2 separate regions of the Homo sapiens genome follow, and region 1 is linked to region 2. Evidence: fine-mapped expression QTL. Tissue or cell type: lymphoblastoid cells. Region 2 holds a variant in brackets; the other region holds the start of a gene. All regions are shown on one strand. Distances are between the middles of the regions.

What was found. PIP is the estimated chance that this variant, and not a neighbour inherited with it, causes the effect.
Region 1: SMAP2 starts here. The variant in region 2 is fine-mapped to the expression of SMAP2 in lymphoblastoid cells (TwinsUK, PIP 0.95).

What each region holds. Positions count from the first base shown.
Region 1 is chr1:40,368,762-40,377,036 of GRCh38, reverse strand. SMAP2 (small ArfGAP2) reads right to left here and starts at 3,310. Exons shown (of 10, transcript NM_022733.3): 1 at 2,814-3,310. The coding sequence starts at 2,916. RefSeq lists an enhancer at 2,553-3,052 and silencers at 3,038-3,177, 3,248-3,567.
Region 2 is chr1:40,394,207-40,402,481 of GRCh38, reverse strand. All of the region lies in intron 1 of SMAP2 (small ArfGAP2), which reads right to left. Among named protein-coding and RNA genes, the nearest start is that of SMAP2, 25 kb to the right of the region's middle. The variant A/G (reference allele first, on the strand shown) is at 3,277.

The sequences.
Region 1 (8,275 bases), 25 kb after region 2:
TGGGATTACAGGTTTGAGCCACCACACCCAGCCTCTATTCCGAAGTTTAAATCACATACCTTGAAAGTCAACTAATAAATGTTCCTAAATAAGTATAAGAATTTAAAAATAAAAGTCATTGCCAAAGAGTTATATTTTGGAACATTGCAAAAATACCTGCTCATAGGTCGATAGTCTATGCCACATCATCTAACTGGATATTAATAGATGAGCAATCACTCACCATATCCTGTACAGTTAACTTCCAATTTTTTAGGAAAGGACACAGGAATACAGGTAAATAAACTGAAACCCAATTCTCATTTTAGCCAACACTTTTTAAATTCCTCCTCCAATGAAATGTATTTTTTATCAGCGCTAACAGGTAACAATTTATTGATCCAAACGTCTTTTCCTTCAACAATCTGATAGTTGTCCAAATGATCATTATGACAACCAAAATTAGAAAACAGCAGGGGAAAAAGAGTGAGAGGGCTTGGAGGGGTGGAATGGGATAGGTAATTCATAAATTGGATAAACAGAGGCCTCAACAAATGCCTATTTGTCATAATCTAAAGATGACTGACCCATTGTCATCTCATTTTTAATACAATGACCAAGTCCCTGAAGCCACCTGGTAAAATGTAAAACGAACTTCTGAAAAGAAATTGAGGATCCAGGATTCTACCATCAACAGTAGTTAATAAAGTTTACAAGCCAGCAGTTACTAGTTCTCATTAAGAATTAACTGATATTTCATAACCTGATCCCCAGTAAGCTTATTAATAAAAAGCAACGGAAATTTCGGGCTGGGCATGGTGGCTCACACCTGTAATCCCAGCACTTTGGAAGGCTGAGGCGGGTGGATCACCTGAGGTCAGGAGTTCAAGACCAGCCTGGCCAACATGGTGAAACCCTGTCTCTACTAAAAATACAAAAATCAGCTGGGCATGGTGGCGGGCGCCTGTAATCCCAGGTACTCGGGAGGCTGAGGCAGGAGAATCACTTGAACCCGGGAGGCAGAGGTTGCAGTGAGCCGAGATTGCACCATTGCACTCCAGCCTGGGCGACAAAGCGAAACTGTCTCAAAAAATAAAAATAAAAAATAAAATAAATAAAAAGCAATGGAAATTTGGAGGAAGAAGTAGTGAATCAGCCTCTCTCTTCCATGTGCTGTATTTTATTGGAATATGAGTAAGTATAAGGGTAATATGAGAAATGGGGGGGGGGGTTCTAGTCACCAAAATGGCATCTGACTCTCCAAATGCAGCAATGCTCACTCCAGTGGGTTGCTTCACTGTGACTCAAGATCTGTCAAATGAGGACATAAGGGAATTTGAATAAAGCCAAGATACACTCCTAAAATAAACCAAATCTTCCAATAGACCTAACAGAAGATGTAACAAGAATCAAGAAGCTAACCTACTCAACATAAATTGATTCTAAAATACTTTTTAAAATGAATTATTGCTAATGCAAAAATTCAGGAAAGAAGTCTAGGAATTTGTTTTCCTAATGGCACATTCCATTTATCTGTTGGTAGAGGTCACTAAAATACATTACTAGGTGTCTATGTATCCCTCCCCTGTTCTCCTTTTATAACCTTATTCTTCAAAAATAAAAGGTAATTAAGTGAAAGCATCAATTAAATATGTCCTTCCTTTCTCAAAATAGATAAATACGAATATAACTGAATCTTTGTTTTATAGTATATGCCCACTACGCTGTACGGCAAACAACCATGGCAAATCCACTGCATTATGAACAAAAGTAAATTGTCGCCCCCAAAATATAACTATCCATTTCGACCCAACCAAAGGGAAAATAATTTTCCCAATCCTCCAATTATATGCCAAAAGAATTAGAAAATACAGGAAAAAAAGATTCATAGAAGCTTGTATAAATGTCAAGTGCCAACATTTCACTAATAACCAAGATTTCCTATTGTACTGACTTTTAATTGTATCAAATCATGAATCTTCTAGGGCACAGAAAACAAAGACTAAATGGTTCTGCCAATTTACAATGATCATATTTCACCTTTAGAAGTGTAATCGCCATGGAAGCAATGAATTCATCGAATTCATCTTTCTCTCTCCACTGATTAAACGGATCCTGCACTACAGGCATAATCGGCTAGTTTCTGCCACCACTCATACATAGGCCTCCAACGCACTCTACAAGCCAGGGCTACACTGCCTAGAAATCCGCACTGTGTCACTGCATAAGGCAGTTTCCCACTGCACACATCCAGAAGAATAAAGTCACCTAAGCACTCTTGTCAGATCTTAGCAAGGCTGCAAAATGACAGGAGTTGCTAACCAAATAGCAGGAAGCAAAAATCACCACCTTTAAAAATCATTTAAGCAGTTTTCCTTTCCGCCATCTCACTTCCCTCCTCCTCCTCCTCGTCATTCTCTCTCTCTCTCTCTCACACACACACACACACACACACACACACGCACGCACGCACGCACGCAATGCAGTTCATCCCCAGCTTTGCAAGTGACATGCTGGGAGCTCTCTCTGGACAGCCGGCCCAGAACTCATTCAGAGCCCTCAAATACAGACATTCTCACCTGAACACGCCAGGCAACTTCCACCCGCACCATCACCTCCACCCTCCCCGACACACACAGACTCGCCCTCGCAAGCTCTACCCATACCAATCCCCCAGCTGCAGAAAGCCCAGTAGGCTCACTGCAAGCGCAGCACGCGTTACCACTTATAAGCCGAGTTGGGCGGCCTAAGCTTCAGAAACCGCCTCTTCACGCAGCCCACCCCCACCACCCCGGCGCGGCTGGACCCCTGGCCCGCCAGGTGGGATGCGCTACCTTTAGACTGGCAATCTGCACAAAACTTGTTATCCTCCTCCAGCAGCAGGTTGGCCAGGACAGCCTGGTACCGATCCACGTCCTTCACCGACTTGCCTGTCATGGCCAGGGTGCCGGCGGGGGCAGAGGGCGACGCGCCCTCCTCGCCCCCAGAGACCCCTGCCTCAGTCCGGGGTTGAGGACTCCCGGTCCCCCGCCCAGGGGCACCTCCTGAGCGGGGAGAGCCCTCTCCTCCGGCCCCGCCGGACGCCCCTTCCCGGGTCGGGGGCGTCCGTCCCCCACTCCGCAGCCCCTCGGCGCGGCGCCCCTTGGCGGGCTTAGGGACAGGCCCGCCTCCAAGAGAGGCTGCGGGGCCAGAGACCCTCAGCCCAGGCAAAGGCGGACCACGAGCCTCCTGGGTGCCGGACGCAGATGACCCTCTGGCCGGCCTGTCTGCTGGCCTTGCGTCCCGCGCCTCGGTTTCCCTGGCAGCTGCCGTCAGCTCCGCTACCACCTCCACCGCCTACTTCCGGCAGCTCTTCCTCCCCACCTCCACCCTGCCCAGCTCGCGCATGCGCCCCGCCCCCACCGCGCCGCACTGGGCTCTTCCTTCAGCTCCGCCTCTCGGGAACCAATCCGTGGAGAAGCGGGGGGCGGGCCTTGGGTGGGGGCGGAGGGAAGGGGTGGGCACGCCCCCTGCGTGTCCTTGGAAGAGAATGAATGGAGCCTGGTAGAAAGGGAGTGGAGGGAATGGAAGAAAGTGAAGGAAGACAACAACTAACATTTACTGAGCTCTTACTATGCGCTAGGCACTGTGTTAAGCGCTTTGCATGAACTATCCCAACATAATCCTCACAACGACCCTATGATCATCCTTATGTAACCTGAGGGTTGTTGATACCCCAAAGTCCTCCAGCTTGTTTTTTCCAACAGCCAAATATAAGAGTCCAAGCCCCTAACCCAGGATATAGGAACGTCACCCCCTCCCCACATTTTCAGAGGACTCTGGTCACCTCTCACTTGGAATACCTGCTCCCACTAATACTCATTAGCTCTCCTCTGTGACTCCTGCCTTTTTGGATATTGTTTGGCCTGGTGCCCAGACAGTTTGTTTCTTCTTCCATTTCTTAAATTCTCACAAAACAGCGAGTTTTTTGTGGCAGACTTTTACTGAACGTTATTTGGGAAGGGTGGGGGACAGTGATTAAAGCATAGCACACAACAGGCAACTCCTTAAAAATGATTATTAAACATCATCATCCAAAGCCACCGTTGCTACAGATAATTTCTCATTGGCTGTCCTTTTCCTTAGGGATCCACCTGCCATCTGGCTTGTGTTTTCATTCACTCATTCATTCATTCATTCACTGAGCACGATGTTACTGAGAAATTTCTAAGTATCAGGCACTGTACTAGGGGAGAGGGAAACAGCATGATCCGATTTGTGGTTTTAAAAGGTCACTCTGGCTGCCATGGAAATAATTAATCAGGGAAGATAGTAAGCAGATGCTAAGAGTTATCTAAACTCTGGTGAAACCCTCTCCTCCATTTCTTTACTTTCTCCCAAGACCAGGATCCCCTCAAAGCTTTCATCTCATCAGAGGAAAACTAAACATTTCTATTACTTTATTAATCACAACAATTAAATTTTCTGGCTAAGCCTCTTCCCTTCTAGCCATGCCTAGGGGACTTGACTTTTAAAAACACACAAGTTCATTGGGGTGTTTTTCCTCAGAAAACCCATCCAAGTAGGTATTACCATAACCATTTTTCAGTTGAAATAGACAGTCAAGATTAACTAGTTACTGGGTGTGGTGGCACATACCTGTAGTCCTAGCTACTCAGGATGCCAGAGCCAGAGCATCACTTGAGCCCAGGAGTTGGAATCCAGCCTGGGCAACACAGTAAGAACCACCCCTCCAACCCCCAATGTACCCCGTTACCCTGTCTCAAACAACAACAACAACAACAAAACCCAGTTAATTGCGGTGAGTGGTGATTGTACCTTAGTTCAAGCCCTCCCCATCTTCATCTCCTCACTCTGCAAATAGCCTTCCTGCCTTAGTCTAAATCTGGTTAAATTAATCCTTCACCGTGCTCTCTAGAGGGAGCTTTTAAATGCCAATTCTGATGGACTCACACTTCCTGCTTAAAAAATCCTTTAGTGGCTCTCCATTGCCTATGGCAGTGTTTCTCAAATTGTTCCCACCTAGTGAGAGATCTCATGGCTTTGTGGTTAAGCACACAGACTCTGGGGCAAGAATGCTTAAGTTTAAATCTTCAGCTTTTACCACCTATTATCTGTGTGACTTTGAGCAGGTTACTTAGCCTCTTGGTGCCTCAGTTATTTCATCTATAGAATGGGAATGATGATAACATTAATAGTACCTATTTCACAAGATTATTATGAGGCTTAGCTGAGATAATGCCTGTAATATAATTAGAACAGCCCTTGGTAGATAGTGAATGATAGACAATTAGCGCTCTTCACTAAATATTTCTGGCGTTTTGCCTTCTGAGCACATGGTAGGATTTTATTTCCTGGCCTTCAAGTGATTGGGAAAGACCAATGAGTTTGAGCAGAAAGGATGGATTACTTTGTCTCTGAAGCATTTATTTGTTGCTTTGAGCCTCTTGTGCTTCTCTTTCCCTCTGGCATGGCAACTATTGATGCTGAAGATGTTGGTTGCTCTATTAGCCTGGATTTCTGTGTAGCTGATAAACAAGAGCTCTCTGCCAGCCCATAGAGGATAACTTAGCATAAGCAAGAAATAAGCATTGTGTTGCCATTGAGTTTTGTTTGTTTACCACTGTATAAGCTAGCCTATCCTAGCAGATACATCAAGTATTAGCTCTTTTTATTATCATTACTAATAGCAGAGTAAAGTGAGTGCATAGCCCAGGGTCTGAGGATATAAACAAAGCAAACTGCTCCTCCCAAGTACACATTTTTTTTTTTGAAGTCTTGAATTTTGCTTTGACTAGTCTTGCAAAAATGTTCACTCTGTTCCATCATGCACATGTTATCTTATCATAAAACTGTTTCCACATTAGTTATAAAATTTTTTTTTTTGAGACCGAGTCTCGCTCTGTCGCCAGGCTGGAGTGCAGTGGTGCGATCTCGGCTCACTGCAACCTCCGCCTCCCAGGTTCAAGCAATTCTCCTGCCTCAGCCTCCCAAGTAGCTAGGACTACAGGCACGTGCCACCACTCCTGGCTAATTTTTTGTATTTTAATAGAGGCAGGGTTTCACCCTGTTAGCCAGGATGGTCTCAATCTCCTGACCTCGTGACCCGCCCACCTCAGCCTCCCAAAGTACTAGGATTACTGGCATGAGCCACCGCGCCTGGCCAGTTATAGAATTTTCTTTTCTTTTTTTTTTTTTTTTATTATACTTTAAGTTTTAGGGTACATGTGCACATTGTGCAGGTTAGTTACATATGTATACATGTGCCATGCTGGTGCGCTGCACCCACTAACTCGTCATCTAGCATTAGGTATATCTCCCAATGCTATCCCTCCCCCCTCCCCCTACCCCACCACAGTCCCCAGAGTGTGATATTCCCCTTCCTGTGTCCATGTGATCTCATTGTTCAATTCCCACCTATGAGTGAGAATATGCGGTGTTTGGTTTTTTGTTCTTGTGATAGTTTACTAAGAATGATGATTTCCAATTTCATCCATGTCCCTACAAAGGACATGAACTCATCATTTTTTATGGCTGCATAGTATTCCATGGTGTATATGTGCCACATTTTCTTAATCCAGTCTATCATTGTTGGACATTTGGGTTGGTTCCAAGTCTTTGCTATTGTGAATAATGCCGCAATAAACATACGTGTGCATGTGTCTTTATAGCAGCATGATTTATAGTCATTTGGGTATATACCCAGTAATGGGATGGCTGGGTCAAATGGTATTTCTAGTTCTAGATCCCTGAGGAATCGCCACACTGACTTCCACAATGGTTGAACTAGTTTACAGTCCCACCAACAATGTAAAAGTGTTCCTATTTCTCCACATCCTCTCCAGCACCTGTTGTTTCCTGACTTTTTAATGATTGCCATTCTAACTGGTGTGAGATGGTATCTCATTGTGGTTTTGATTTGCATTTCTCTGATGGCCAGTGATGATGAGCATTTTTTCATGTGTTTTTTGGCTGCATAAATGTCTTCTTTTGAGAAGTGTCTGTTCATGTCCTTTGCCCACTTTTTGATGGGGTTGTTTGTTTTTTTCTTGTAAATTTGGTTGAGTTCATTGTAGATTCTGGATATTAGCCCTTTGTCAGATGAGTAGGTTGCGAAAATTTTCTCCCATTTTGTAGGTTGCCTGTTCACTCTGATGGTAGTTTCTTTTGCTGTGCAGAAGCTCTTTAGTTTAATTAGATCCCATTTGTCAATTTTGTCTTTTGTTGCCATTGCTTTTGGTGTTTTGGACATGAAGTCCTTGCCCATGCCTATGTTCTGAATGGTAATGCCTAGGTTTTCTTCTAGGGTTTTTATGGTTTTAGGTCTAACGTTTAAATCTTTAATCCATCTTGAATTGATTTTTGTATAAGGTGTAAGGAAGGGATCCAGTTTCAGCTTTCTACATATGGCTAGCCAGTTTTCCCAGCACCATTTATTAAATAGGGAATCCTTTCCCCATTTCTTGTTTTTCTCAGGTTTGTCAAAGATCAGACAGTTGTAGGTATGCGGCGTTATTTCTGAGGGCTCTGTTCTGTTCCATTGATCTATATCTCTGTTTTGGTACCAGTACCATGCTGTTTTGGTTATTGTAGCCTTGTAGTAAAGTTTGAAGTCAGGTAGTGTGATGCCTCCAGCTTTGTTCTTTTGGCTTAGGATTGACTTGGCGATGTGGGCTCTTTTTTGGTTCCATATGAACTTTAAAGTAGTTTTTTCCAATTCTGTGAAGAAAGTCATTGGTAGCTTGATGGGGATGGCATTGAATCTGTAAATTACCTTGGGCAGTATGGCCATTTTCACAATATTGATTCTTCCTACCCATGAGCATGGAATGTTCTTCCATTTGTTTGTATCCTCTTTTATTTCCTTGAGCAGTGGTTTGTAGTTCTCCTTGAAGAGGTCCTTCACATCCCTTGTAAGTTGGATTCCTAGGTATTTTATTCTCTTTGAAGCAATTGTGAATGGGAGTTCACTCATGATTTGGCTCTCTGTTTGTCTGTTGTTGGTGTATAAGAATGCTTGTGATTTTTGTACATTGATTTTGTATCCTGAGACTTTGCTGAAGTTGCTTATCAGCTTAAGGAGATTTTGGGCTGAGACAATGGGGTTTTCTAGATATACAATCATGTCATCTGCAAACAGGGACAATTTGACTTCCTCTTTTCCTAATTGAATACCCTTTATTTCCTTCTCCTGCCTAATTGCCCTGGCCAGAACTTCCAACACTATGTTGAATAGGAGTGGTGAGAGAGGGCATCCCTGTCTTGTGCCAGTTTTCAAAGGGAATGCTTCCAGTTT
Region 2 (8,275 bases):
AGACCTTGTCTCAAAAAAAAAACAAAAATACAAAAATACAGTTAGAAGAAATAAGATCTAGTGTTCAATAAATCAGTACAGTGACTATAGTAAATAATAATCTACCATATATCTCAAAATAGGTAGAAGAGAATAATTCAAATATTCCCAGCATAAAGAAAAGATAAATGTCTAAGGTGACGGATATAGCATTATCATGATTTGGTTATTACACATTATGTGAATGTATCAAAATATCACTTGTACCCTGAAAACATGTACATCTATTATGTATCAATAAAAAGAGATAAACCAATTGTTTAATACACATTGGTCATGGCAATCAAGGAAAAAAATATAAAAGATGCCATTTTGAAATTTAAAATGAAAAGAAATGCTGAGAGGCAATATGCCAAACAATTTTGAAAGCAAAGAGGATAGACAAGTGATGTAAACTGGTAGTGATCGGCACAACACAAGAACAAGGTCACACATAAGTGCACATATTCAACAGGAGCCTAAGAGCAGGCGTGGGCAGCATCAAGCAATACTAAAACTAACATAGAATCACTCTGCAATAAGGGATCAGGGAAAATGAAAAAAGTAGATGGAGATGGATTTGGTTGATCAGTCAAGAAATCAACTGTCCTAAGTACCAGTTCAGTATCGGAAAAATCTGGGTTTACACGGACCTGTTGCATGTATTTTGACAAGTTTCTCTAGGGCTTATGTCTCCATTTGTAAAATGAAAAGCATATACGTAATATCCAACTTATATTCAACATCTGGACAGCTTCTACATACGGAGTAACTACTGCTGCAAATTCCTCTTGCTGCTGAAACTTCCCCCACCACCAAAGCTGCCAGGATTAGAGGGGCTCTGGGATTGACAACTCAGCAGACAGAAAAGGGGAACTAGCGTGATGGAGGACTTCAAGCTACTACTAATATTATAATAATTATATCATTGAGTTCTAATCTATGGAGTTCCAAACAAATAAATATTGAGGAGGAAAAAACATTGATAAATTGATGGCTACCTATATTTAGACCTGCTGGCATAACGGACCTGTCAAAAAGTTCAACGGGCAGGCTACGCGAAGGGAGAGAACTTTCCCATCTTCCATCCAAATCCTGTGGAATCTATCTTGGAAACTTTTCCAGAATCTATCCATTTCTACCTAGACCTCATGTCTCACCTATAAGCATTCGTTCTTTTTTGTGTGTGTTTGTTTGTTTTGAGACGGAATCTCGCTCTGTCACCCAGGCTGGAGTGCAGTGGCGCGATCTCGGCTCACTGCAAGTTCCGCCTCCCGAGTTCACGCCATTCTCCTGCCTCAGCCTCCCGAGTAGCTGAGACTACAGGCGCCCGCGATCACGCCCGGCTAATTTTGTTTTTGTATTTTTAGTAGAGACGGGGTTTCACCTTGGTAGCCAGGATGGTCTCGATCTCCTGACCTAGTGATCCGCCCTTCTCGGCCTCCCAGAGTGCTGGGATTACAGGTGTGAGCCACCGCGCCCAACCAGCATTGGTTCTCTTAACATTATTTATTGTGTACCTATGTGCCAAGCAATTTGCCTGCTAAGTACTGGGGATACAAAGGCAGAGAAAATAAGGATGAGATTCCTCAATTCAAAAAGCTCACAGACTAACAAGCAATTAGTCTCCAGAATCCCACCACCAGAATAATCTTTCTAAAACACAAATCTGTACAGATCACACCTCTAAATATAAACCTTCCATGTAGTCTCATACACAAAGGTAAATATGTAAATTGGTGCACATTTTCTGAATAGCATATTCCAAACTAAGCTCTCAATCTCTTGCTACAAAATCTCTTCCTTTTTTCTTCATCTTAGTCAACTACACCTCCATCCATTCCATTGCGTCAGTCAGAAAATTATGCATCATGAAACCTCTCTCCTTCAGCCCCCACATCACCAAGACAAAAATATCTGTCAAATCAGTATCTCTTCTCTCCATCTGTATCACTATTTCTGTAATCTAAAGCCACCAGACTCTTTCGGACCACTGCAATAACCTCCTAATAGCTCTCTCTCCACTTTTACATTCTCTTCTCCCTTGAGCCCAAACCAAAACCATTCTCCACCAAACAGCCAACTTGAGCTCTTAAAGAAGCAAAGCCACATTGTGCTGCTTAAAATTCTTCTATTACTATTGGATTAAATAACAAAATCCTTAACATAGTTTCCAAGGTCTTAAAGGTCTAGCCCATGCCTCCTTCCGCAGCCTCTCAATTCCTATGGTAGCAGCCTTCTTTCATTTCCTCAAGGGACCAACATGTTCCTTCCTCAGGGCTTGCTGGACTTTGTACATGCTGCTCCTGCTGCCTAAAAAAACTCTTTCCCTAACTGCCAAATGCCACTTGCAGCCTGGCCAACTCCTATACATCACAAGGGTCTCAGCTGAAATGTTTCTTCCTCAAAGGAGTCTTTCCTTGGCTCCCCAGTCTAAACCCGACTGTAACATCTCTTCTACCCTTTCTTTTGGTTTTTACCTTACAGAAAATTTCAAACAAACGAAAGCAGAGCATAATTAACCATGAGCTTCAGCAATTATCAACTCCTAGCCAATTTTGTTTCAGCTATACTCCCACCCACTGCCCCTCAACTCCAACCTGGATTATTCTGAAGCAAATCCTAAATATCATACCATTTCATCTGTATATACTTCAGCATATATCTCTAAAAGATAAGGACTTTTTTTTTAAAGGTTATGAACTTTCATTTACCCTTTACTCTTTTTTTCACTCTTTCTTTTCTTTTCTTTTTTTTTTTTTGAGACAGGGTCTTACTCTCTCACCCAGGCTGGAGTGCAGTGGTGCGATCATAGCTCACAGCAGCCTTGGGCTGTCAGGCTCAGGCAATCCTCCCACCTCAGTCTCCCAAGTAGCTGGGACTAGATGCATGAGCCACCACGCTCAGCTGAATTTTTTATTTTTGTAAAGATGGGTCATTGAGTGGTGTTAAGAGTCAGGAAAAAAAAAAAAGAGAAAGAAAGAAAAGAAAAAAAAAAGAAATGGGCCAGGCACGGTGGCTCACGCCTGTAATCCCAACACTTTGGGAGGCAGAGGTGGACAGATGACCTGAGGTCAGGAGTTTGAGACAAGCCTGGCCAACATGGTGAAACCCCATCTCTACTAAAAATACAAAAAAAAAAAAAAAAAAAAATAGCCACACGTAGTGGCACATGCCTGTAGTCCCAGCTACTTGGGAGGCTAAGGCAGGAGAATCACGTGAGCCCAGGAGGCGGAGGTTGCAGTGGGCCGAGATCCC[A/G]CCACTGCACTCCAGCCTGGGCAACAGAGCAAGGCTCTGTCTGAAAAAAATAAAAATAAAAATAAATCAATGAAATAAAAAAGAGACAGGGTCTCACTATGTTGCTCAGGCTGGTCTTGAACTCCTGGCCTCAAGTGATTTTCCTACTTTGGCCTCCCAAAGCACTGAGATTACAGGAGTGAGCCACTGTGCCTGGCCACCCTTTACTTTTTCTAAATCATACCATATTTTGTTACTATCTAATTATTTGATTGTTTAAGATGTCTTTCCCGCTTAACTATGTGTGCCACAAGAGCTGTCACCAGACCTGTAACATTCACTATCATATACTCACGGCATAGCATGGTTCCTTGAACATAGCAGGGAAGCAACATTTGCTTAAAGATTAATTAAAACTAAGTATTCTAGGTGCAGTGGCACATGTCTGTAGTCCCAGCTATTCAGGAGGCTGAGGTTGGAGGATCACTTGAGCCCAGGAGTTTGAGGCCAGCCTGGGCAACATATTGACACCCTATCTCAAAAAAACAAAAGAACTAAGTAAATCCTTTGACCCCACTTGTAAGAATTCATCAGGGAAAAAACAGGTCAAGTACACAAAGAAATACGTTAAGAATGTTCATTATTACATCTTTATGAAAATTAGAAACATTAATAGGTTACATTAAGGAATTATGGTATCACCATTTAACGGGGAAAAATTTTGGAGCCTCTATTTCATATAAAAGTATCTCCATGATATAGTAATTTTAAAAATCCAGTATTAAAAGAGTACACATGAAACAATTCCATTTTTTTTAAAATATGAATAAATGAGCTCGGTGTGGTGATATGCCTCTGTAGTCCTAGCTACTTGGGAGGCTGAGCGGGAGTACTGCTTGAGCCCAAGGATTCAAAGGCTGCAATGAGCTATGATTGCACCATGGCACTTCATCCTAGGGAACAGAGTGAGACCTTGTCAAAAAATAAATAAATAAATAAATGTACGCGTATGCACAGAAAAAAAATCTAGAAGACTATATGTAAATTATTACTATATCGGGATAATGGGATAATGAAACATCTATTTTCTTCTCTATATATCCTCTCTGAATTGTTTGCAATGAGCTTTCTATTAATTTTGCAATGGGAAAAACCAGTACAGATATCGTAAAAACAAAACAACGTAAGCATCCAGGGCTCCTTACTGGCTGCAGGGTAAGTTGAAACTCCTTAACATAATATATAAAGTCTGTTGAGAGCCTTGTACTTTACACATGCTGAGGAAGTCATAATTGTGAAATATGCAGCACACTCAAATCTCTTTGACTACACCATTCTTTCTACCTGGAATGGCTTTCTCCCTCATTCCCTGCTTGACAAACTTAAAAATCCAGTTCATCTGTGATGCCCTCCAATGGAATAAACCCTAACTTTCTCTATTGCTAATAGCCCAGGGTATGCTTTGTTCTTCTAATACTTAATATCTTGTTCGAGTTGCTTACAGGTCTCTCTTGTCCTAAATAGACTATGAGCTCTGGAAGGCAATGACCATGTTCCTTCATCATTTATCACAAACACTTGACACAATGCTAGCAAACAGAAGATGGTACACAATAAATGTGTGTTAAATGAATTCGTCAATAAGCAACATAAATGTATATATTTTTCCTGTTTTGCAAAATGAAGGGAGAAGTTTTCAAATGCCTTAAAGGATAGCTGTAACACAGAAAACGGATTAGGTTACTTTGGAAAGGCTTCAAAAGCAGAACTGGCACCAAGGAGTAGAAGTTGATTTTAGCACACTCTAGAGAAAAATTTTCTAACAATTAAGGTTGTGTAAAAACCAATGCAGCATATCCAGAAATTGTAAAATCTCAGTTAGTGCAGTGTTCAAACAGAGGTTTGGTAATCAGTTCTCAGGGATGGTAGAGAAATGATCCCCATGTGGTGAATTGGGTGAACAATGAGCCCTACAGTTCTTTCTACTACTACAGTCCTACTACTACAGTAGATGATTTGCAGTAATTTTTAGGTCCCTTCCTGCTTACCGTTCAATGGTTCTGAAAACGTAAAATGAAACAAACAATCTATGAAGATGTTAGGTCTTGAGGAACCTAAAACACGGAATCAAATTTGGTTCATGGAGCCTATACCAGGCACTGAAAACTGGTTAAATGCAACATACATATAAGGAAAAACCTAAATCAACAAACTCAGATTTTATAAGAGATTAATTCTACGTGACATAACTTGTCATTAACTCTGACCCAAAATTTGGAAGTCAAAGTAAAAAAAGCAGCAGTATTTGTTTTAAGAACAAATCTAGTGCCAGTTACCTCAGTTCCACTCATTATATCCCTCCATTCTCTGATTCACTGAAAAGGAAGAATACACAGAAACACCAGTGGGATCTTGGAAAAATTGTGTAGGGCTGCTGAGAGGTATGTTTACCTCTATGTTTTCATCCACACAAAAGAGAGTTCATCAAGTTCCTTATTCCAAAATAACAATAAACAGTAACTTTGAACTTCTGTAAGTACAAACATTTTAAGGAACCATGAGACCAAAATAAAGGCTTATGCAATCAACCTCTGCTTTCAGAACACTTGCAAGACAAGTCCCTTTCCATCTGGGCCATCTTGCAAGAATGTTGTTTCCGTTTGTCAAAAAGAAACACTGTCCACATTTGTACTGTTGAAAAAAGAGCATAAGTTAAGCTTAAAAATGTCTGAGACAAAGAAAATTAAAACATGTCTGAGACTGGTTAGAGAATAAAGGTAAATCCTACACCAAGAAATTTAAAATTAGAAAATCAGAGGTGGAAAGGACTTTAGAAATCCTCTTAGGTCCAGCCTCTCACTGAATGCACCCTCCTTCTAGGGGTGATCACCTGGCTTGTCCAATGCTGAGTCAGTTACGTACCATTTCAAAAGGTAGTTGGTTTGTCTATTAGACGGCACCCACTATTAGAGAGGCCTTCCTTATACGGAGTCCCATTAATCTCTCTTCCTACCATTTTGATATCCTGGTGCTGCTTTTTACTCCCCCCATACTTATATAATATATCAAAGTATGAAAGATAAAGATGGAGGTTTGGAGATTCTAGCAGAAGAAAGCAGCCACTTATATACTCAACCAAAATACAAGCCCGCTGAACCAATTTAATCCAGGAGCTCAATGATAGAACAGACATAGCAATTAGACAGACTGCTGTGATTACCAATGGAGATGAAGCAAAGCAACATTATCTTCCTACCAGGTAACCGGAAAAAGGAGGTTAAGGGAGGTAGAACACTGCTAAGTACTCACTAATGAAATGATTAGTCAATCTATGTCTAAAACTAATTCAGCAGTTAACTTAAAATGGCTTTTCTCAAAAAACATTAAAGCCTGTAACACAAAGAAATCAACAGGAAAGCAGACTGAGGTCTACTAGGAGAAAGGAAGGAGGCATTCTTCATCTTTCTCATGTTATTTAACTGGCCCTTCTTATCTACACAGCTAAAGATACGAATTATCTAAATTACAGCACTAATTTCCTGTGTGACTTTAGACAAGTCAATATACCTTAACCAGATTATCTCAAACATATCTCTTCTAAAAGATAGTAACTGTATCTCAAAAATTCATTAAACTACTCTGGAAAGGTAAATTTGGCTCCACATTAATCTTACTGCCCTGTTTTATTATTATTATTATTATTATTTTGTAGAGGTGAGGTCTTGCTATGTTGCCCAGGCTGGTTTTGAACTCTTGGGCTCAAGTGATCTTCCCACCTTGGCCTCCCAAAGTACTGGGATTACAGGCATGAGCCACTGGGCCTGGCCATTGGTTTATTATTAACAGGTAGGGACTTACTGTGACTCTTCCTTGTTGTCTCTCCCAGCAGTGGAAGGTAACTAGTGTATACTTAGGTGATGTTTCTGGGAATAAAGAACTATCAATCAGTCATCCTGTATCATTATTATCAATTCAATTCCCCAGGTGACTTCAGGAGGGAAAGAATGAGATCCTAGTTTGGACTTTGTTGGCTTTGAAAAGGACATTCTGCCAACATATGTCCTGATAATGTCATCACCCCATTCAAAGCTATGTCACTGGACCCCCCACCATCAACTGAACTCCAAACTTCTAAGTATGGCTTAAATTCTCCTGTGATCTGGGTCTTTAATTCTCATTACTCCTCTTCTCACTTCTATACACCAAGAGTGACATCACTTCCTCTTAAAACTGTGTATATAGATGCCACTTGTCATGTTCCTGACTCACAGAGGAATCTGAGAGAGTGAATACTACCCACAGAGACGCACAGGCCTTTTTCTGATTTGGGGATGGGATACAGACAGAGGGACTCTTGGGTGTGGTGAGTCTCTGTTCCAACTAGAGGACCTCCTGACTGCCACAAAAATCAATGTACACATATATCAAAACACCACATTGTATACTGTAAACATATACAATTTTCATTGTCAATTACATCGTCGTAAAAAAGAATTCTTTCCAGTTGGTCCTGGGAAAGCTATGCAGTGCTCTTGGTGGTAGTGTCTGAGAGCTGAGACAAGGCCCAAGTCTTTGGGGGTTTCCCTAGGAGATTCTGGTATGTGCTGCTATGATTGTTTTTATAGTAAAGAGCCAACATATTTTAAGGAGGGAGAAAGAGCTAGCCAAGAGATTTTCTGCCAGTATTGAAGAACCTTGTAAAGTCAGTGAGATGAGACTGATTGCATAAGCCAATGAAGCCCCCAGTTGCTTCCGTTAGAGGCCAGTCCCTTGATGCTACAAACACTGAATAAGATAAAACTTAAAAATCTGAACAGGTCCACCTCTTCCTTTGAGGACAATAGACTTCTTCAAAAAAGAGCAAAAGTGGATCCCCGTAAGTTTTCATTTCATGGAGTGAACTGATGATGGCTAACCTTCAAGACATGGTTACTTGAAGATTCATCAAAATCCTTCCAATCCCTAGTGATTGGCGCCCCAAACACCTAAACACACCGCATAAGAGGAGAACAACTTCTGA